Linked DNA regions of Homo sapiens. The protein of the gene in region 2 purifies or fractionates together with the protein of the main gene of each other region. This does not show direct contact. Each region holds a gene or a part of one and is shown on either strand. Other genes may lie near its edges.

Region 1 (7,823 bases), on a different chromosome or scaffold from region 2:
CAGGCAATCCACCCACCTCGGCCTCCCAAAGTGCTGGGATTACAGGTATGAGCCACCGCACCTGGCCTGAAACCTATTGTGATTTTTAAAATAATGTATAATGAAACATTAATATTTGGAAGATTTGCATAGCTCAGTGAATCAATTATTTTCCATATGACGAATGCACGGTGTTACAAAATTATGCATGGGTAAAAGATCCAATCAGGTGCAGTTCAGAAAAACGGATTTTTTTTTTTTTTTTGAGACAGAGTCTTGCTCTGTCACCCAAGCTGGAGTGCAGTGGTGCAATCTCGGCTAACTGCAACCTTCGCCTCGCAGGTTCAAGTGATTCCCCTGCCTCAGCCTCCCGAGTGGCTGGGATTACAGGCGTGTGCCACCACCACACCTGACTAATTTTTGTAGTTTTAGTAGAGACGGGAGGGTTTCACCATGTTGGCCAGGCTGGTCTCGAACTCCTGACCTCAGGTGATCCACCCACCTTGGCGTCACAAAGTGCTGGGATTACAGGCGTGAGCCACCACACTTGGCCAAAACAACGGATTTTAGTTTAACAGTACAAAAAGGTCACTGATATGGTTTCACATTCTACATTGCAACTGCCCCTTAAGAAACTGCCAATTATCGGCCAGGCACAGTGGCTCAGGCCTGTAATTCCAGCACTTTGGGAGGCTGAGGCAGGAGGGTAGCTTGAGCCTAGGAGTTTGAGACCAACCTAGGCAACATAGTGGCACACCATCTCTATTTAAAAAAAAAAAAAAAAGGGCCGGGTATGATGGTGCACATGTGTAGTCCCAGCTACTGGAGGAGACTGAGGCGGAGAGAGCACTTGAGCCCAGAAGGTCAAGGCTGCAGTGAGCCAAGCCGTGATTGTGTCTCTGCACTACAGCCTGGGTGACAGAGCCAGACCTTGTCTCAAAAAAACATAAATATGCCAGGCCCGGCATGGTGGCTCACGCCTGTAATCCCAGCACTTTGGGAGGCCAAGGCAGGCAGATTATCTGAGTTCAGGAGTTCAAGACCAGCCTAGCTAACACAGTGAAACCCCGTCTCTACTAAAAATATAAAAAGTTATCTGGGCATGGTGGCGGGCGCCTATAGTTCCAGCTACTTGGGAGGCTGAGGCAGGAGAATGGCGTGAACCTGGGAGGCGGAGGTTGCAGTGAGCCGAGATTGTGCCACTGCACTCCAGCCTGGGCAACAGAGCGAGACTCCGTCTCAAAAAAACAAAACAAACAAACAAAAAATACAACAGTTAGCTGGGTGTGATGGCTTATGCCTGTAGTCCCAGCTACTCGGGAGGCTGAGGCGGGAGAATCACTTGAACCTGGGAGGCGGAGGTTGCAGTTAGCTGAGATCGCCCCACTGCACTCCAGCCTGGGTGACAGCGCGAGACTCTGTCTCAAAAAAATAAACAAATAATAATAATAATAAATAGGCCAGGCGTGGTGGTTCACGCCTGTAAGCCCAGCACTTTGGGAGGCCAAGGCAGGCGGATCACTTGAGGTCAGGAGTTCGAGACCAGCCTGGCCAACATGGTGAAACCCTGTCTCTACTGAAAATACAAAAATTAGTCAGGCATGGTGGTGCATGCCTGTAGTCCCAGCTACTCAGGAGGCTGAGACAGGAGAATTGCTTGAACCTGGGAAGCGGAGGTTGCAGTGAGCCAAGATCGCACCACCGCACTCCAGCCTGGGCAACAGAGCAAGACTGTTTCAAAATAAATAAATAAAATAATAAATAAATCTTTCCAACTGCATATCTGTTGTGAGACAGGATTTTCTTCATATGTCTCAGTAACCAACATATAGCAACAGATCAAATATGGAAGGAGATATTGATAATACAGCTGTCCCCTTGGAAGCCAGAGAGTAAAGAGATTCGTAAAAATGTAAAATAATTTCCATACTCTCATTAATTCGGGGAATGGGAATATAGTTATCTTTCATTTAGAACATTATGTTAACATGATTAATGTGTAATGAGTTTATTTTTGTTATTTTTAACGAATTGATACATATTTAAAATTTTTCTCAAGTTTCATTTTAATATGGCAACTATTGGTAGATATAACCCACTTCAACAAAAAAGCTGTTTGGGGGTCTTCAATACTTTTTAAGAGTGTAATGGGTTCTAAGACCAAAAGACCCACACCGTATTAGTATATTTGATAAGTACCCAGAAACTGGTACATAAAAAACTCATCTGGCAAATGTTCATGAAGTGCCAACTCTATGCCTGGTGCTGTGATAGGCCTTGGGGATTCAGAATTGAGAACAGTCGTTTCTGTTGAGGACTCACAGACCGGCGGAGGCGCCAAACCGGTATAAGAACAGTTATACCATGGGACTAGGATGAGGGTGAGAGCCCGCACCAAGAACACGCACCTATTAGGTGAGGCGGTGGGAAGAGAAGTGGCCAGGGAAGGCTTCCCAGAAAAGCTGACACTTACTGAGTCTTAAAGGCCACCAGGAATCAGCCAAGGGGATGGGCATTTTAGGGAGAGAGAACAGAATGCATAAACTGTGGAAGCTTTAAGAAAAGTATGGCTATTTCCAGCTCCTGCACGTAGCTCATTATGAATGCAGCATGAGGTACAAGTATGAATACTGGGGGTGAGGTTGGGCATGGAAGGAGATGAGGCCAGAGAGGCAGGCAACAGCCAAAACAACGGGCCTTCTATACCATATTAAGAAATGTGGATTTTTTTTTTCTCCTCAAAACAGGCAGGGTGCCCGCACGCCTGTAATCCCAGCTACTCAGGAGGCTGAGTCGGGAGGATCACTTAAGCCCATAAGTTCAAGACCAGCCTGGGCAATCTAGCAAGCTCCCGTCTCAAAAAAGGTGGGGGGACAGGGATTAGGGAGGGGTTTTGGAGAATTTTAGATAATATTCGCATTAACTTTTAAAAAGATATTTGACAACAATGTCATGGGACAGTCAAATGAATGAATGAGTTGAGGAACTAGAAGTAAGACTACAAAACAGACTGAAGAAAACATAAGGCGCGGCCAGAGGCCAGCCCAGACCGACCCGAGGAGGAACCTCCTTGGTAGAAGGCAGCCTCTCCAGGATTAGGTGGTTGTGAGACGCGAAGGGCAGGGGATACCCAGTGGTCTAGCATAGGCTACTGGTGGATGAGGCGTCTTCCACGGAGTTAGAGGAACACTGCGAGGTCAGGCCAGGGTTGCTCTCCGTGTGGCTAGCAGGCAGCTAAACAGATCTGAATGCATTTCCACGCCACCTCCCCACCGCCCCGGCCAGCGGCCTCGGGTTCCCACGGTCCCCAGCCCACTGCAAAATCCAGGCCTCCCGCCCCTCTATGACTGGAGGGTGGGGGCGAGGCTAGCAGCTCCCTCCCGGCTTCCTCCGCTTGTTCTCTCCTCCCCTTCCCCCTCCTCCCGGCGGCTCTCCACTTCCTTTCCCCCCACCCCACCCCAGGGAAAAACGAAAACAAACACCCTCGCGCCTCGCGCCTCCGACTCCCAGACCCCACGACCCGGCTCCGGCGCTGGTTTGGCGGCCTGGGTGGGAGAAGGCACCTCGCCCCGGACCCCCTATGCCCCGCAGCTCAGTGACTCTTCCCCTCGCCCTCCGCCTTCCCCGCCGCAGCCCGGCTCCGCCTCCCAATGGGGAAACATCCCAAAAAAGGGCAGAAAAGAAATTTCAGCATAAAGTTGGCCCACTGGGAAAGAGAGGAGCGTCCGCGGGGAGCGGGGGAGAAGAGGGAAGGCGCGCGGAGGGGAGTGGGGCCAGGCGGAGCCAGGGGCGGGGAGCGGAGGGGCTCGGGACGCGTCCGGGTGGGAGCGGGGGCGGGGAACGCGCGGTGACCAGCCTGGCCGCAGCCGCGTGGAAAATATGCGGGGCACGTGGGGGGCGGGGCGGGGAGCTGGGTCCTGAGCCGCCGGGTGCTCGCAGGAAGGGCCTGGCTCCAGGGGCAGGGGCTGGGAGGGGAGGCGAGGGGATGAGAGGTCAGGCCGGTCCTGGGGGCAGCAAGCCCGGCCACACTCCCCACCGCGACCGGGGCTCTGGGCTCGCTTCCTGCTTCAGTTTCCCCAAGCTCCCGATGAGACTCCGCTACTACCACCACGTCGATAACGCAAACCTAGAGGGACTCAGGGTAAACTGAGGCACTCAAACTGCCGAGGAGCTCCGCCTCCCGAGAGACATTTAATCCGGGGGGATTTGCAGGAAACTTCTAAATTAAGGGTAGCGGCTGCTGCAGCTGAGGGGGGGCACGCCGGTCCCTGCGCCCGGGCAGCTGCCGTGAGCTCACGCCCCGAAATAGCCCCAGGGGCCCCAGCCGCAGCTGCCACTGGGTCCGGCTGTCACTCAGAGGAAGCACGGAGCCCCCAGCCCAAGGGTCCCCTCCCCTTCGCATCGCCGGGGTTTTTCCAGCCGACCGTCGGCCACTTTTTCCTCCGACGGCTGGCAGGGAAGAGGGGGATGGGGGCGGGACCCCAAGGGAGGCGGTCCCCAGTGGGTGGGCGAAGGGGGCGGCCGCACCCCCCGGCCGGGCCGTGCTTCTGCCCCTACAAGGTTTGGGCCGAGGTGGGGGAGGGTCCTGGTTGCCGGCCCCGCCCGGTCCCTCCCCGCCTTTTAGGCGCCCGCGTGGCCGGGACGTCCCAGTCCCGCTCCGTCCTCCTCGCCTGCCACCGGTGCACCCAGTCCGCTCACCCAGCCCAGTCCGTCCGGTCCTCACCGCCTGCCGGCCGGCCCACCCCCCACCGCAGCCATGGACGCCATCAAGAAGAAGATGCAGATGCTGAAGCTGGACAAGGAGAACGCCATCGACCGCGCCGAGCAGGCCGAAGCCGACAAGAAGCAAGCTGAGGACCGCTGCAAGCAGGTTAGGGCCGGGCCCAGTGCAGCCTGCTCTCCCCGCGCCTAGGGCAAGGGTGGGCCGCTGCCATGGGTCCCCCAGCCCCGGGCCTGCCCGCCAAGGCTCTCTCTCACCCAGGGTGGGGGCTGGGCCTTCGCAGTACCCTCAGGGCCTTCGCCAGAGCCGCTTCTCTCCCCTACAATAGCCTGGGGAAGCCCCAGGCCCCTGGTTTCCACTCTGCCTTTGCAGAGCGCGGTTGGTCCTGCTCCTTGGGGCCTGAAGTTTTCTCTGTACCCTCAACGGGTCCCACCAGTACCCTTGACTGTACTGTCCCTTTTATGTTATTCCGCTTCCATCCCAGTAGCCTCCAAATCTTAGTAGCGCCCCTACACACACCGCGTCTCCATTCTGGGCCTGGGCCCCCTCCCAGCCTGGCTGACCAAGTCCCCTCTGTCCCAGCTGGAGGAGGAGCAGCAGGCCCTCCAGAAGAAGCTGAAGGGGACAGAGGATGAGGTGGAAAAGTATTCTGAATCCGTGAAGGAGGCCCAGGAGAAACTGGAGCAGGCCGAGAAGAAGGCCACTGATGTGAGTGTGGACTTGGGGGACAATGGGAGGAGTTAGGGCTCTGGGAAGGGGCCCCCCGGGTATGGGAATAAGAGGATTGGGGCACCTTATCCCCTTATGTCCCCAGCGCCAGGAGAGAAATGGTTTCATCTCAGTAACCAGGGCTAGGGTAAACTTACACAAGTAATCCAAGACAGTGGATAAATCAAAACCACCTACCACTTCCCCCAGAGGACTTAGCCCTGTAATTCTGTTTGGTTCCAGCTTTTAGAATGTACAGTGATCAAGCAATGAGTCATTGTGGGGGTGGAAGGTATAAGAATTTACCATCTACCTCAATTAATCCTCCAGCTGAAATTGGAGAGGAGACTGCAGCCGTTTGGGGATGGGGGGATGTGGATGTGAGGTACTAGCCTGCAGGAGGAGGGAGAGGGATCCAGAGATGAGACCCCACTTGAGTTACAACCCTAAGGGGCCATTAGAAATTCCCTGGCCTTGACCTCTGGCTTCAGCAGCCCTGCTGTGCCCTGGGGCCCCAGCTCAGGTTCTAATGGCTCCTCATTTACCCTCATTAAGCTGTCAGCCTGGAGACCATGCCAGGCCACAGGGCAGAGGGACAGGGCCACAAATGCCAAAGCAGCTACCTTGGCAGGTCATTTACCCTGAGATTTCTCTGCCCACCCCACAACCCCAACCAGACTTCACTTCCTGCCATTCCCAACCCCCAGCTTAAGGTAGGAGAATGGCCATATGGCTTTGGTGTGGTGGTAGTTTCCCCATTCTCTGCCTCAGTTTCCCCATCTTCCTTCCACCCAGGATTGTTTTAAGATGAACCTATGGTTAGATTAGCATAAAGCATGGTCTGAACATCAGAGATGACATAGCTGTTTGTGTCGACTGCTCATGTTCCCAGCCCCCCAGGGGTTGGGCTTCTGTGACCTCCAGCCTCCAGTTTTGGTTCTCCACCAGTCCTGGCACTTGGGAGGGAGCTGACCTGCAGCTGCTAGCACAGACAACCCTGGGCATCTGACACTCTATAAATAACCAAGGCCCAGTGCAGCTGGAGGCAAGATTGGAAACCCAAGTTGCTGGTGGGGGCTGGAGGGGCAGGGGGGACAGGGACAGAGCTGGGGAGGCAGAGCCGCAGCACCAGGAGCAGATAGGAAAGACTGCCCAAGCTTCCTGGTGACCTTGAACACAGCACTCAACTTACATGGTGCCTCAGTTTCTCCCTCTCTCTTGCTTCCCATTTTTCTAATGGGGACAGTAGTGCCTGTCCTGTGGTTAGAGAGCCGCCCCCGTAACTGGGAAGAGCTTGAGAGGCAGGAAATGGCACATATCAGTCCCATGATGAGGACCCCAGGACTTCCCAAACTTTCCAGAGTCTTTTGTCACCCCACCATCATGCAGAGTTTTTCTTTTACAGTCTCACCTCTCTCTAGGGTAGTACTCCAATGTCCCCCACAGTGATTCTTCCCAACCCCCAATGCTGTCCCCAGAATGCTTCCACACTGTCATCCGGCCCTGTGCCCATGATGGGCTCTTGTCACTCTAGGTGGCCAAGCTCCAGGTGCCTTCAGCACCTGGAAGACAAGCTACCATCTACTCTCTATATATGGTGCTGTTTCTCCTGCCCTACAGTCCGACCAAGGACCTGCTTCCTATGCTGTGTCCAAGTGCTGCCCCCAGCCCCTCCCCCCACCTCCTTTCCCTACACAGGTCCTCTCTCCTTTCCACTCTGAAATCTCAGGGTCTCTGTGTCCTTGTTTTTGACAGAGAAAGGGGATAACCTAATATTTATGGAATGTGGACCCTGTGCAGGCAATGTACTCAGTGCTTTCTGCATGTTATTTTACAATTTCCCAAACTTGGCTTATCATCAGAATCACTCGGGGGCTTTAAAAAAAAAAGAGAAGATTCCCAAGCCCCCGCCCTACACATCCCAATTCAGTGGATCTAGCATGGAGTAAGAGAACCTGTTTAGTTTTATGAGTCTCACCGAAGGTCCTGTTGATTAACTGAGTATTAAAAGCAGTGGATTATCTCAGAACAGCCTTAAGAAGGAGGAACTGTTATTGTTAACTCCAACTTGTGAAGGAGGAAACTGAAGCTTAGAGAGGCTAAATAAGTTGCCCACAGTTACACAGGTGTTGAGTGGCTGAGCCGTGGCTCAAAGACAATCTGACTCAGAGCCGATGCTCTTAACACGTGGCTGCCCTGCTCCTCTCATTTTCCTTTACTGGCGCTCGCCTTGCTCTGCCCTTTTTCTCAGTGTTTGACCAGTTTTTATGGATTTTTTCCAAAACCTCCATGGTTTTGCCTCCTACTGCAAGCCCAGGGGCTGAGTAGACATCCCTCACACTGCCCCTGCATTGCCCCCAGCTCTCTGCTGGCCTTGGCAGGGAGCCCCTTGCTACAGCCATGGGTATTCCTTATA
Region 2 (7,521 bases):
GCTTTGGTTTAAGATAGACCAGGGCTTGAATTCTGACCCCAACACTTACTAGTTGTATGACTGCAGAAAAACGACTTAACATTCCTGAAACTGTTTCTAATTTCCATTATTTGAGGCAACACCATGTATTAAAGGAGAAAAATATAAACAAAGGAGCGGGCATGTAACAGGAGTTCAATAAATGAGGACTGGTATTTCCTTCCAGTCACTGGCATATGTAATAATCACAGTGTAGCTACAATTCTGTTTTCTTCCTGTTATAGAAATAAAATTGATCTGCCCATTACATAAATTAATATCCTGCTTTCTGTGAATTGCTTCGTTTACCTTGCGTCTTTCTTCTGCAGCTTCTAATTTCTTCTGAATTTCCTCCAGGGAAAGATCCTTCTTCTTTGGAGGGGAAAGGGGGAATTCTGGAACAGATTCTTTTGACCGAGGGCTGAGAATCAGCTCAAAAGCCTGGCCTGAGGCACGCTTCTCCAGTTCTTTCACCTGGATATCTAGAATTGATTATATTTATAATTCAGAAAACCAGGATTCTCCTGTTCTAATAAACTGTACTATAATTTTCTAAAACCCAAATCAATTTAATGTATTAAACTAGGGCTGATGAGGAAAGTTGTGTTTTTTTTCCCCTTTTTATTCCTATCAGTCTACTGACACTAGGGGAAGATGTATTTGCAGGCAAGATATTATTATCTAAATACCATTTCCCAAGGCCAGGTACCATGGCTCATGCCTATAATCCCAGCACCGTGGGAGGCCAACATGGGAAGATCCCTTGAGCCCTGAAGTTTGAGACCAGCCTGGGCAACAAAGGGAAAGCCCATCTCTACAAAAAAAATTTTTTTTGATTAGGTGGGTGTGGTGGCCCATGTCGATAGTCCCAGATGCTATGGAGGCTGAGGTGGGAGAATCGCTTGAGCCCACTTGAGCTCCAGAAGTCAAGGCTGCAATGAGCTATAATTAAGCCACTGCACTCCAGCCTGGGCAACAAGGTGAGACCCTGTCTCAAAAAAAATAAAAACCATCTCCCAGAAAAACAAAGCTCAACATTTTTGGATTAATAAATACTGTTTTGAGACATCAGTATCTGACAATCGCTTTCATAAACAAAAGACTTGTGCAAACTCCACAATTTTGCTTCAGACTAAGCCAAACTGTCCAATAAACAATTACGAGCTCTCGGCACATTCAAGTGATAATCATTTTTAAATTCTTCTCCTATTCATAAAATAGGTTTTGGTAAGACCAAAACATAAGTGCCAAATCAAAGGCGAAGACCTGAGCCATCTCAATCTAAAATCATAAGCCCATTACAATTTCAGATTTTCCAAATAGATTACCTACCAGAAGAAGCCATGGTGAATAGAAGACAAGCGACAGGCAGTGTATTCTGCACAATCAACTGGGATAAGGAAAGTCCTGAAAATGATTTTCAAAAACATGCAATCACTTTCTTTGCCTTTCTATATGTCATCAACCCAAAAAAATCTCACATCACATCTACATACATCGTCAGAAAAATACGTGGAATAAAGACGTCTAAATTAACCACGAAAAAAATTATCAAAATCTACTAAATAAACATTGGGAAATATGACCTGAATATGATATTGGTTCCAGAAAATCAAGTTAACTGAGCTTTCTCGGTCATAAAACTCTTGGATTTTTAAAATCAGACAAAGTCACAAGGGTGAAGAATTTTTCCCCCATAAACTCTTTAACATTTCACCGAAACTGTAAGAAGATATTCCAGATTCAACTCAACAGTGCCCCCGGAGCCATCTTAATACTGCCTACAACTCATTGTGCAAATGAAATACCCACCCCTGCTTTGTCTGTGTCTGACGTGGTGGATAAGAAAACGCCCAAGCTAATAGTAACCAATAATGTTGAACTCCTATTGTCCCTCAGGTTTAAGCTTCCTTGCCCAACAGCAAGCAAAATGTTTATGAACCTCTAGATTTTGACTTATATTTGCTGCCGTTATGTCATGAAAAATGCTGTATCTCTTGTTGATCTTTTTAACATTATGACTTTTGTAGACGCCAGCTAGTACCAAAAACGTAGGATGACAGGTTCCCAAAAGCTAGGAATTAAAATCAGAGGCAGCGACAAGATTTAAGAAAAGCAGAGAATTAGACGCAGCACCGGACCCAGGATGGGCGTGGCCCTGGTCCGGGCGAGGAAAAGAGGACCGGTCGCCCCCGGCCAATCAGAGCACGCCTTGCGCTCCGGCCCCTGGCCCCGCCCCCTTCCTCCCCGCGCCTTTTCGAATCTCCCCGAACTCAACACCCCGGAGCCCGCGCGCGTGGGAAGGGGAGGGGTGGGCGGGGCTAACGGTCCAATCCGGGTAACTCCGCCCCTGCCTGACTCCCCCTGCGCGGACGCCCCCCCCAACTCCCGCCAAAAACACCTCCAGGCCGCCGCCACCACCCCCTTCACAGTTCAGCGGGTGGGGCAGGCCCCGGGAACAGGCCCCCGGGTGGTCCCGCGGTGAGCTCGCCACCGCCTCCCGCCGTCCCCATGCCCAACCTGCCGCCACCCACGCTGTCCGCGCGTCCGGCCGCGAAGACAGAAGAACCCTCGTGGGGCCCGGGAGCGCCGCCCCTCAATCACCAGCTGCGGTCGCCAGGGGACGGTCGCAGGGAGGGTCGCGGCCCTGGCTGCCCGCAGTTTGGTCCTAAAGCCGCTGGTCCCTGGGGCACCGCCCCGTCCCTTCAGACAATGGGGAACCCGGCGGGGCCCGCAGGGAAGGGAGGGAGGGAGGGAGGTAAACGAGGGCCCACGCCCCCTATTGTCTCCTCGACGGCACCCCGGAGCGGACGCCCGGTGATCGCCCAGCCCCCTGCCCACGAACAGCCGCGCCCCCGGAGAGCGGGGACAAAGGCGAGGCTCCGCCCGAGCCACACACAAAGCGGAGCGACCCCCGCCCACCAACCCCTCCGAGGCCCGCAGCCCCGCCCGCCGCCCTGCAGCAGGGGGTCGCTGCCACGGCCCAGCCCCTCCCGCCGACCGCGTCCCTCTTGCTGGCCTCAGCCAGCCGCCGCCTCCTCCGAGCCCCGCACCCACCTGCTCAGTCCGAGCCGCCTGACCACACTCTGAGCACCAACAGACCCGGGCGCGCACAAAAGCGCCAAACAGAGGCACGTGACCTCCGCGCGGGGCTCCGCATTGGCCGAGAGCGGCGGCACGTGCCGCCCCCGCCCCCCACAACCCGCGTGGAGCGCCGCCCCCCGGGACCCCGAAGCACCTCGGGAAGTGTAGTCCTGTCCCGGAGGGCAGGAGGACAATGCCGGGGGTTGCAGGGCGCCTGGGGAGCATCCCCAGGTGTGGGCCTGGGACTAGGGGGGTGGTCTCGCCGTGGAAGAGGGCGTGGCAGTGGACCCCGGACTAGGTCCGAACCAGCTCCCCATTCTCGAGAACAAGGGCAGGGCGGAGCAGGCGGAGGGCGGGGGGGTCCTTCCCTACCTTTCCAAACTTTGGCCGCCTGGACTCCACCTTGTAGAGCCACATGCCCGCCTCGCCCCAAGGGCAGCACTCGGACAGAGCAGTGCCCCTTCTAGTGCGCCACCCACATGGGTGCCTAAGACGCCCGAGCCCCTGTGACAGCACAATGCCACTCCACGCCCCTGCAGGGCCCCCTGCCCCCGGCACCCTACACCGACACCGGCGTGTCACCCATATTGTGACATCATCGTAATTTCTAATCCACTCAGCCCACAGGTCGCGGGCGTGGCCCTTCCCTCACTGTGTGCGTTCTTGCCAGCATCCTCAGGTTCCCGAGCCGGTGACCAGGGACCTGTGCGGGAAAGCGTGGGGCTCTGGAATTTGATCGCCTTTGGTCTAACAAAGCCACTCAGCTTAAATGCAGACTCCATCTGTTCTTCCAAGCCTTCTGCGGATGATAGGGGAGGAAGAGCAATAGCCGTTCTAGACTACACAGATTGCAGTTAAGTGTTGCTTTTGTTCTCAGAGCACGTGCTCCCCAGAGCAGCACTGGGTTCTTTTTAAAAATCGAAAAAGGAGCCACAAGGTCACTGTTCTCCCTGACCTGGATAGCTCAGAACCTCAGCAAAGGCACAAAGGAAATTGGTCTGACCGTGCCTTAGAATAACTGGCCCTTTCTCTCACAAAAAGGGGAAAAAAATAAATGAAATGAACATGGTCCCCGCCTCCTCCCATTCTCTGACCAAGACCGTGTCCTCGGTTGGTGGTCAATACACCAAGACACCTGCTTTGAGATCTTGACTAAGCAGAAGAGATATCTTTATTTTATTAATGAGCTGCATCTCCCCAAATCAAGAAACAAATGTGACCAACCTTCCTGAAACAACAGTCCTAATTTAGAAAGACTCTCATGCCTAGTTAGTCACCAGGGATGTGCCAGAGATAAAATACAACTAAGGGGTGCCCAAGACAATAAAAACTGGATCATACAAGCAGCAGCACACTACACAAAGCAAACAATTAGCAATGCGCTGTTGCCTGAAATATGCTTGTTGCGGCATTTTTTCCAACAATCGCCCTTGTGTGGGGTCGGCCTCCCCCCCAAGCCAATCGAAGTGGTTTTCACTTAGCCTGTGAGCAGGACCAGGAATAATTCAGATACTGAGCCTTGAAAGGCTTCTTCTCAGACCAAACTTAGCTTCAAAATGGCTAGGTGCTTCCGTCTGTCATTTTTCTGAACAGAATCTCAGACATCATTAGAAAAGTTGGAGAAGGATGGGCATGAGACCCCTCAGGAAAGCGACAGATAGGCAGGCAACACAAATGAGCAAGGAACCCAAGCCCAAGAGGTCCTTACCCACTGAACAGGCTTTTTATCTTGAAGTCTTTGTATTTGATCTGGAGGTTCACAGAGGAAGGTCCCACTCATTTAATGCATTTTTTTAAGTACAATAAATTGCCACACAAAAGTCTCACATTCCTGACTATTAATGTTGTGACAGAAAAAAGAAATAAATCTTTCAAAACACTGATAATTTGAAAGCACTTACACTGCTTCCCCCCACATTTTCTTTCTCCCTAGAGCAGATGTCTATTTCCATGGAAACCATAGCAAGGAACGTAGATGTTAGAACTCATGTTCATTTTTAATCTTTTTTAGCAATGCCACTTGGCTTCTGGGTTTGTTGGGAGATGCCTGGTTCTGCCAGTCTGTGACAATGTTCCAAGCTCCTCACAGCTGCTTGAGGACTGAGAGGGCTGGGTTAAAGTTTCCCCTAGAATGAGCCTTTGAATAAAAAGGTGCTTTTGAGGTGGGATTCCTGTCCTTTTATTATTATTATTATTATTATTATTATTATTATTATTATTATTATTATTTGACTTAAAAAAAATTGAGACAGGGTCTCACTATGTTGCCCAGGTTGGCCTCGAACTCCTGGGTTCAAGCAATCCTCTTGTCTCAGCCTCCCAAAGTGCTGGGATTACAGGCATGAGCCACCACACCCAGTCTGATCCTTGTTCTTTAGGGTGGGGCTGCCTTCCCAAGAGCCAGATCACAGCTCATTATTGTCAGCTTTTGTGGGTGTCCTATATAAGCCTTGGAATAGGAAGGGCTTTCAACTGTAAGGAGAGACAACAGTTTTGCCACTTCACCTTGGAGAGGGGCAGAATCGCCCTTCTCGAAAGCTTCCTAAAACGAACTTCAAGATCCACTCTCTTCTGAAGTGGCAGCAAGGAGTTAATGTTCACATCTTGGAACTGTCTATCTTTGCCCATAAGAATTATTTTTGCTTCTGCTCAGATGGTTTGGTTGGATTGTTATGGAGCTGGCTGTGACTATGGAGCCACACAACGAAGTGGAGATAGGGCAGTCATCCAGCTTATTTGATCTGTGTAGACAGCTAAAGGAGAGCACTTCAGGCTTCAAAGTCTAGAAGGAATGTCTACACTGATCAAACGGCGGGCCAGGCCGTTGTCAGATCTCCTCTCCTGCCAGAGAGCCCGGCAGCCTTTGTTCATTGTTGGGCTTGAGGCTGCAGGGTTTGTCTCCCACATGGCGCCTCCAAGTTCCACAGCTGCTTTCGAGGCCTGTCCTCGGCCAAAGGGTGTCGTGGGAGAGGTTTGCTTGTTGTCCCCGGTCTCTCTGTTCCCTTTGTCTCCTAATCCTCAAGCACTATGCTCTAACACTCCCTTCTCTATTCAAAACCTGTCTATGAGTCTGCTGTTTTACACATCGATCTCCCTCACTAGACCATTAGGTCCTAGAGGGCAGGGTGCTGTCTTTGTCTTGGTATCCCTAGTGCAGTGCCCATCCTCAGGCCTGGCCCAGGATGATGGCGCCTGAATGTTTGCAGAGAACTTTGGGAAAGAACAACCTCTTGGCCGGGCACGCTGGCTCACACCTCTAATCCCAGCACTTTGGGAGGCTGAGGCAGGCGGATCACAAGGTCAGGAGATCGAGACCATCCTGGCTAACACGATGAAACCCCGTCTCTACTAAAAATACAAAAAATTAGCCAGGCATGGTGGCGGGCGCCTGTAGTCCCAGCTACGCACGAGGCTGAGGCAGGAGAATGGCATGAACCTGGGAGGTGGAGGTTGCAGTGAGCCGAGTTCACGCCACTGCCTTCCAGCCTGGGCGACACAGCAAGACTCCGTCTCACAAAAAAAAAAAAAAAGAACAACCTCTCTCATCCTTCTGTGATCTTCTGTCTCTTCTGTGATATTAGACACTTGCACTCTGGGAGTGGTGAGGATTAAATGAAATAATGTAAATGAAAACAGCACAATGCCTGGCACATTTAAAGTGCTGTGCACTTGTTAGGTATCATTGCTAGAGATGTTTCCTGATTGCTATAGATTATTTTATTTTTATTTTTTGAGACGGAGTTTTGCTTTTGTTGCCCAGGCTGCAGTGCAGTGGTGCAATCTCAGCTCACTGCAACCTCCGCCTCCCAGGTTCAAGCGATTCTCCCGCCTCAGCCTCCTGAGTAGCTGGGATTACAGGTGTGCGCCACCATGCCCAGCTAATTTTTTGTATTTTTAGTAGAGATGGGGTTTCATCACGTTGATCAGGCTGGTCTCAAACTCCTGACCTCAGGTGATCCACCTGCCTCGGCCTCCCAAAGTGCAGGGATTACAGGCGTGAGCCGCGGTGCCTGGCCTGCTATAGGTTATTGAATGAGTGAATGACTATTAGACTTTCACCCTTTGATGGAAATTGTAGTTACTGGGTTAACTCTTCCCATGGGGTTAAATTCAATTCATTTAACACTTTATTTTTTATTTTTATTTTTATTTTTATTTTTTTGAGCAACAAGGCTGTTTATTTCACCTGGATGCAGGCGGGCTGAGTCCGAAAAGAGAGTCAGCAAAGGGTGGTGGGATTATCATTGGTTCTTATAGGTTTTGGGATAGGCAGTAGAGTTAAGAGCAATGTTTTGGGGGCAGGGGATGGATCTCACAAAGTACATTCTCAAGGGTGGGGAGAATTACAAAGAAACTTCTTAAGGGTGGGTGACATTATAAAGAACCTTCTTAAGGGTGGGGGAGATTACAAAGTACATT
Region 3 (7,196 bases), about 130 Mb from region 2:
GAATGCAGTGGCAAGATCTCGACTCACTGCAACCTCCACCTCCCGGGTTCAAGTGATTCTCCTGCCTCAGTCTCCTGAGTAGCTGGGATTACAGGCAGCTGCCACCATGCCCGGGTAATTTTTTATATTTTTAGTAGAGACAGTGTTTCACCATGTTGGCCAGGCTGGTCTCCAACTCCTGACCTCAAGTGATCCACCCACCTTGGCCTCTCAAAATGCTGGGATTACAGATGTGAGCCACCATGCCTGGCCTCTGCCATTAGGTTTCTGATCTGTTTTGTTTTCCACCACTTTCAGTGGCCAAGGAAAGTGGTAAGAATTGAATATATTATGCCAGAGGTTAGAAACACAAACTAAATATACATCATTTAAACTCATTCTTCCAAAAGTTAAGGCCAGCACAGGCTTTTTTTTTTTTTTTTTTTTGAGACGGAGTCTTGCTGTGTCACCCAGGCTGGAGTGCAGTGGTACGATCTTGGCTCACTGCAAGCTCCGCCTCTTGGGTTCACGCCATTCTCCTGCCTCAGCCTCCTGAGTAGCTGGGACTACAGGTGCCCGCCACCGCGCCCGGCTAATTTTTTGTATTTTTAGTAGAGATGGGGTTTCACCGTGTTAGCCAGGATGGTCTCGATCTCCTCACCTTGTGATCCGCCCGCCACGGCCTCCCAAAGTGCTGGGATTACAGGTGTGAGCCACCGCGCCCGGCCAGGCCGCCACAAACTATTAATTCTCCCTTCTTGTGCCCAGTGTGGTGGCTCAGACCTGTAATTCCAGCACTTTGCTTTGAGAGGCCAGGGCAGGAGAATCGCCTGAGGCCAGGAGTTCAAGACCAGCCTGGGGAACATAGTGAGGCCCTATCTTTACAAAAAATTTAAAAATTAGCCAGGTGTGGTGGCATGTGCCGGTAGTCCCGCGTACTCCAGAGGCTGAGATGGGAGGATCGCTTGAAGCCAGGAGTTCATGCTTGCAGTGAGGTATGATAATGCTACTGCACTCCAGCCTAGGTGACAGAGCAAGACCCTGTCTCTATTTAAAATGATAAAAATTCTCCCTTCTCAGAAAACTCAAAAAAACAAAACAAAACAAACAAACAAACAACCCTACCAAATCTACAGGTTACCCCTGGGCTTTGGGCAAGTGGATGGCTGGCTGGAGTTGTATAGCCTAGGTTCCTGGTATATTTGGATGGATCTCTCTGTTTCTAACATATGGGCATGAAGATAGAAGTTTTCACAAACTAGCACAATGTCAGGTTAATAACAGTTTTGTGAGAAATTGGGTAACATCAATCTGGGTCTGCTCTTAGGCTGAAACGGCTAGTATGTGGGCTTGAGGAGGTGTTTCCAGGAGCAAGAAAAAGAACAAGTCTAACCTGAGATCATGAGAAGGAGAATAACATAGAGGCTGTACGCAATACATCAAAATCATTAGGAATATAAAAGGATTTCCTGGGGATGAATTCTGTCTATCTTAATCTGTTTTACACATGTACAGACATACACATACACACACATAGCACCCCTCACCTAGATGTGGTCTACTCAGTATATTCATTTGAAAGAAGTTTCTTCATATTTACATAGGAATCCACCAAAACCCATTTAAATATGTAAAGTGAGGGTTAAAAATACTCATTCAACCCCTCTCCCCTTTGTTAGCTTTCCCAAGTCAGAAAGTACCCTCAGAGATATGCATAAGAACAAGAAACAGGAGAGGGAAGGTTGTGGCCAGGAGCAAGCAAGAAGAAAGGTTTCTTTCCTCAAAGCTAGAGTCAGCAAACTACCACCTGTGGGTTAAATCTTGCAACAGCCTGGTTTTGTAAATAAAGTTTTATCGGAACACAGTCATGCTCATTCTTGTACATACTGTCTACTGGCTTTCTTATCTCTCTGGCCACAAGACCCTAAAAGTTGGATGACCCCTGCCTCAAAGGGTCAAAGAAGGACAGTGTTTATAGGAATTGGGAGAGGTGCTGAATAAGGACCAACAAGGTTAAAAGCAGAAAGCAAAGGTAAGAGTCATCAGCAGCATAATATATGCATCTTTGGAGGGAGTATACTCTGTCCAATACAAAGGAAGTTAACAGCTCAGCTTCTGTCCTTGAGGTTAATAAATAAGTAAACAGAGCATATTATCTTGAAGTAGATATAAGCAGTAGAGAAGGAGGAGGGAGTCAATAACTACGTGTTTACACAAGCAGTTCTGGTTATCTGAGAAGCCTTTCTGAAAAGTGCAGGATTTACTAGGACTGCTTGAATAAAGAAAGGGCAAGGGTATGGCAAGGCGAGTCCAAACTTTTTTTTCCTCCCTAAATTTGTCTAACTTTGTTTTCTAAGTTGTGGTAAAATACGCATACATAAAACTTACCATTTTAACCATTTTTAAATGTCTAATTCAGTAGTAGCATATTTACATTGTTGTGCAACCACATCTAAGATCATTTTAATCCAAGATGAAATCAGATGCTGTTTAGGGAGAAACAAAGGGAAAGAGGAGTGCATTGTTAGGACATAGAGTCATAACACCATTTTTTAGGGACAGGTGGCAGGAAGGATGGGGAGAGAAGGGACAACGATGGACATATACACCTGTTGATATATTGTATTGCTGGTTACTAGGAACACAATAGCACTGGGCCCCTTGCTGTCTATCCATTGTGCTTCTAAAGGCTATCATGAGTCAGTCCATCTGTTTGACTGCATTAAGAGGAGATTATCTGCTCAAATCTACCAGTCTCAGAAATGCAGTGGTGCTCTCAATACCCTCTTGGTTTGGCTAGGATGAGGTCTTCTGCTGCTTTACCAGGGCACAGGGAGGTACAATAGTGCCCCCTGCTGAGCAGCACCCAGATGACAAAGTGTCACTTCTGCCACATCTTGATCAGACTTCTACAAAGCAAGTTAGAAAAATTCTTAGGCCATCAGGGTAGAGTCTATTAAGAGTCAGAACCCTGATCTTCCTTCCTAATTTCTGGGGGAAAAATCAGTGTGCAGGTTACTCTATTGAGAAAATTATTATCTATCCAAGTTGTTTCTTCTGAATAGTCTCATTGCTCGGTATTTCCAAAAGGTGATAGGAAAACAGAGGCTCTGCAGGGAGCATTCTTAGAACTAGACATTGAGGGCAGCAACTGTCTTGCCTACTATTCCTTTCAGGGATTAGGACTCTTCATTGTAAGTCCTGTTCCACATCCTAATTTTCTAGGAGAAAAGAGAGCTGTCCCAGAAGAAAAATTTATCACGATTACCTACTGGGAAGGTGGGAGGAATACAAAGAAATAAGAGGGAAGATAACGTTCTCAAGTCTCTTTACTATTGTGCTTCCAGAAATCCTGCATGGCAGTGCCTGTAGGGAAAGTTTCTTTTTTTGTTGTTTTTCTTTTTTTTTTTTTCAGACTGTGTCTCACTCTGTCACCCAGGCTGGAGTGCAGTGGCGCGATCTCGGCTCACTGCAACTTCTGCCTTCTGGGTTCAAGCAATTCTCCTGCCTCAGCCTCCCGAGTGGCTGGGATTACAGGCGCCTGCTACTGCACCTGGCTAGTTTTTTGTTTGTTTGTTTGTTTGCTTGTTTTTGTGGTTTTTAGTAGAGACAGGGTTTCACCATCTTGGCCAGGCTGGTCTTGAACTCCTGACCTCGTGATCCACCTGCCTCAGCCTCCCAAAGTGCTGGGATTACAGGTGTGAGCCACTGCGCCTGGTCTGTTTTGCCATTTTTTTTTTTTTTTTTTTGATACAGAGTCTCACTCTGTCACCCGGGCTGGAGTAGAGTGGCACCATCTCAGCTCACTGCAACCTCTGCCTCCTGGATTTAAGCAATTCTCTTGCCTCAGCCTCCCTGAATAGCTGGAACTACAGGTGTGCACCACCACACCCGGCTAATTTTTGCATTTTTAGTAGAGACGGGGTTTTGCCATGTTGGCCAGGCTGGTCTCAAACTCCTGACCTCAGGTGATCTGCCCGCCGTGGCCTCCCAAAGTGCTGGGATTACAGGCATGAGCCACCACATCTGGCCAAAGGGAAGTTTCTAACTCATAAACAGTTCCTTGGGGGTACTTGGAAGTACAGTGGCATTGAAATTGGTAAAAGTTGTAACAGAATGGAGGCTCAATTCTATAGTACAGTTTACAGGCACTCATGTCTGGCTGTTGCATGAAGGATCTAGTAACAGTCGTCTGTTTTTTATTTTTTTGAGACAGGCTCTCAATCTGTCACCCAGACTGGAGGCAGTGATACAATCTTGGCTCACTGCAACCTCTGCCTTCCCGGCTCAAGAAATCTTCCCACCTCAGCCTCCCAAGTAGCTGGGACTACAGACGTGCTGCCACCAAGCCTGGCTAATTTTTTAATTGTTTGTAGAGACGAGGTCTCACTATACTGCCCAGGCTGGTCTCAAACTCTGGGCTGAAGTGATCTTCTCGCGTTGGCCTCCCAAATGTTGGGATCACAGGCATGAGTCACCCCGCCCGGCTGACAGTGGTCTGTAATAGAGGATTTCTTCCTGATAAAATGGGGGCATATCTTTCTTACCTACAAAAGGAATTGTAAGTGATTATTAAATTATTTATTTATTTTTAGAGATGAGGTCTTGCTATATTGCCCAGGCTGGTTTTGAACTCCTGGGCTCAAGCCATCCTCCCACCTCAGCCTCCCAAAATCCTAGACTTACAGACATGAGCTACCACGCCCAGCTGATGATTAAATTGCCAAGTCCTGAATCATTCCAAGGTTTGGAGGGGCTGGAAGGTTGGTTAATTTGGTGCATGATGACTCTCAAAAGTAACAGGGACCTGTAATCCCAGCACTTTGGGAGGCCGAGGCCGGCAGATCACGAGGTCAGGAGATCGAGACCATCCTGGCTAACACGGTGAAACCCCGTCTCTACTAAAACTACAAAAAAAAAATTAGCCGGGCGTGGTGGAGGGCGCTACTCGGGAGGCTGAGGCAGGAGAATCGCTTGAACCCGGGAGGCGGAGCTTACAGTGAGCCGAGTTCGCACCACTGCACTCCAACCTGGGCGACAGAGGAGACTCCGTCCCAAAAAATAAAAAACAAAACAAAAATAAATAAAATAACAGGGAGCCTGACGGGGTGGCGTGCACCTGTAGTCCCAGCTACACCGGAGGCTGAGGTAGGAGGCTCGCTTGAGCCCAGGAGTTCGAAGCTGTAGTGAGTTGTGATCTCGCCACTGCCGCACTCCAGCAACAGAGCGAGATCTTGTCTCTTAAAAAAAAAAAAAAAAAAAAAAAAAAGGAGAAAAGTCTGTTCTAAATAGAACACTTAAGTTCATACCATGCCAAATAGAATGAGAATTTGTGCCATCTTGCCCATCCCTTCCACTCCGACAGTTCCATTCATTGACTTCCAGGAGACGGGAGAGAGAACCTACCTACCTGAGCCGACTTTGAAAGGAGACTGAGTGGGGCTCTTTTGAACCTGAGGCCCAGAAAGTCTTTTAGACTTTTCTTATAACTTGGTTTTGGAGTTTGTCGTGGGGTGAGTGGAAGCAGAGACTTGTAGGATGTTTATATTGTGGAGCAAATACAGTGAGGGGTGACGGGTATCGGCATTGCGGGAGTGAGGGGTCAATTGCGGGAGTGTAAGGTCAGCCGACTACCTGCAAAGGGGCCAACCATTGTGGGCAGCCAGCCTGGCGGGAGAGGCTAGGGCACGAAGCGCCGCCCAGTTACCATGGTAACACTCCCTCGTCCCAACCCCGTCCCAGTTTACTGGCCCAAGGTAAGGCCGGGAGCCGTACTCCAGGGCGACTGGGAGGATCCACTCCCTGCCGCGGCTCTCCCTCCAGTGGACTGCCTTCCCGCCTGCCTGGCGGTGGGAGGGCGCGGCAGAGGGACGTCACATCCGGGCGGGTTGGTGAGTTCCGGTATTTCAGGGCGTAGCAGGCGGAAGTAAGGGTGAGAGGAGGCTGCAACGCCGAGCGGAGGAGGCAGGAACCGGAGCGCGAGCAGTAGCTGGGTGGGCACCATGGCTGGGATCACCACCATCGAGGCGGTGAAGCGCAAGATCCAGGTTCTGCAGCAGCAGGCAGATGATGCAGAGGAGCGAGCTGAGCGCCTCCAGCGAGAAGTTGAGGGAGAAAGGCGGGCCCGGGAACAGGTACGGAGATGGTGAGGCTCATGAGGGAGGGGCAGGCGCTGGAGTATCCGGCAAGCGGAATAAGGTCCCTTTTGCCGTGGAGCACGGTCCTCTGAAGGCCGGCGGGCTCGGAGATGAAGTTGGGATCTCGGAGGATGGGTGGGGCTCAGCACCAGTAGGACACCAAGCGGACGAGGGGGAAACAGTGCTCGGGCGAGCAGGCTTGACCTTTGAAGAAATTGAGCCTTACGGGGTTTGGGGTGTGGCTTTCCTCCTCTTTTTTTCTCCACCTCATTCATTCAGTGCCTCCGATCCGGGCGCGGCCGTGGGAGGGGCTCAGCGGCTTCTCCCTCCCCCACTTCCCCATGGAGGGTGGGAGAACTTTGCTCTGGCTTGAGGTTTCCTGCCCAAGGGGTAAGAGTGGGTGGGTGCTTCTCTGTTCGGGGAGGGGCAGTACTGAACCTTCTGTGAAATGGTGAGGGTTTTGGGGTGGGAACCGTCGGAAAGACCCCGGCCTGCCTGCTGGCAGCTTTTCCGCTCCCTCCTCCTGCTCAGGAAATGAGGCAGCAGTTGGCTGAGAGGAAGCGCGGTGCCCTCCCTCCCTGGAGGAGCTCGAGGCCACAGGACCGCCTCTCATCCTCTGGCCAGGGGCCCTTTCCTCTTACGGGGTGCTCTTGCAGCTGCTACACCCACTCTCTGAATCTACGTGAAACGGCAGGGGAGGGGATAGTACTTCTCTCAACGTTAGTGCAAATGTAGGAGCCAACCAAACTTGCCTGGCCCTACCCACAATGACCTGGAAGGCAGGAACTTCTGTCAGATTCAGGCCTTTATTGCTGAAGTGTGATCAGTGCAAGCCGAACTGGTTAAGAACATTTCTTCCGAGCAGAGCTGATAAGCGAGTGTATGGCAGAGAATCAGATGGTGTGCCAGTCTCAAGGTTTCTGATTGACTTGGGCAATTTGGTGGAGACAATAATGAATTCCAGGTGACTCTAGTGGAATATTTGTTCAACTGAAAGTGGAAACATAAAATGTTGGTGGAGTGAACAGTGATTCTAGTGATTTCTTTCTTCCTTTCTTTTTTTTGAGACAGAGTCTCACT

Evidence for each region.
Region 1: the proteins of STMN1 (region 2) and TPM2 fractionate together in Homo sapiens (co-fractionation; 2 studies listed by BioGRID). This does not show direct contact.
Region 3: the proteins of STMN1 (region 2) and TPM3 purify together in Homo sapiens (affinity purification with mass spectrometry; 2 studies listed by BioGRID, with this or other methods). This does not show direct contact.

The regions. Positions count from the first base shown.
Region 1 is NC_000009.12:35,686,730-35,694,552, reverse strand, and holds the start of TPM2 (tropomyosin beta chain), read left to right. Parts: upstream 1-4,627; 5' UTR 4,628-4,735; coding exon 4,736-4,849; intron 4,850-5,281; coding exon 5,282-5,407; intron 5,408-7,823. UniProt on the Homo sapiens protein: Binds to actin filaments in muscle and non-muscle cells. Plays a central role, in association with the troponin complex, in the calcium dependent regulation of vertebrate striated muscle contraction.
Region 2 is NC_000001.11:25,903,314-25,910,834, forward strand, and holds the start of STMN1 (stathmin), read right to left. Parts: upstream 3,107-7,521; 5' UTR 3,076-3,106; exon of another isoform or gene 3,049-3,075; intron 2,733-3,048; exon of another isoform or gene 2,539-2,732; intron 1,426-2,538; 5' UTR 1,364-1,425; coding exon 1,351-1,363; intron 501-1,350; coding exon 328-500; intron 1-327. UniProt on the Homo sapiens protein: Involved in the regulation of the microtubule (MT) filament system by destabilizing microtubules. Prevents assembly and promotes disassembly of microtubules. Phosphorylation at Ser-16 may be required for axon formation during neurogenesis.
Region 3 is NC_000001.11:154,181,905-154,189,100, reverse strand, and holds part of TPM3 (tropomyosin alpha-3 chain), read left to right. Parts: intron 1-1,658; exon of another isoform or gene 1,659-1,843; intron 1,844-5,882; exon of another isoform or gene 5,883-5,981; coding exon of another isoform or gene 5,982-6,113; intron 6,114-7,196. UniProt on the Homo sapiens protein: Binds to actin filaments in muscle and non-muscle cells. Plays a central role, in association with the troponin complex, in the calcium dependent regulation of vertebrate striated muscle contraction.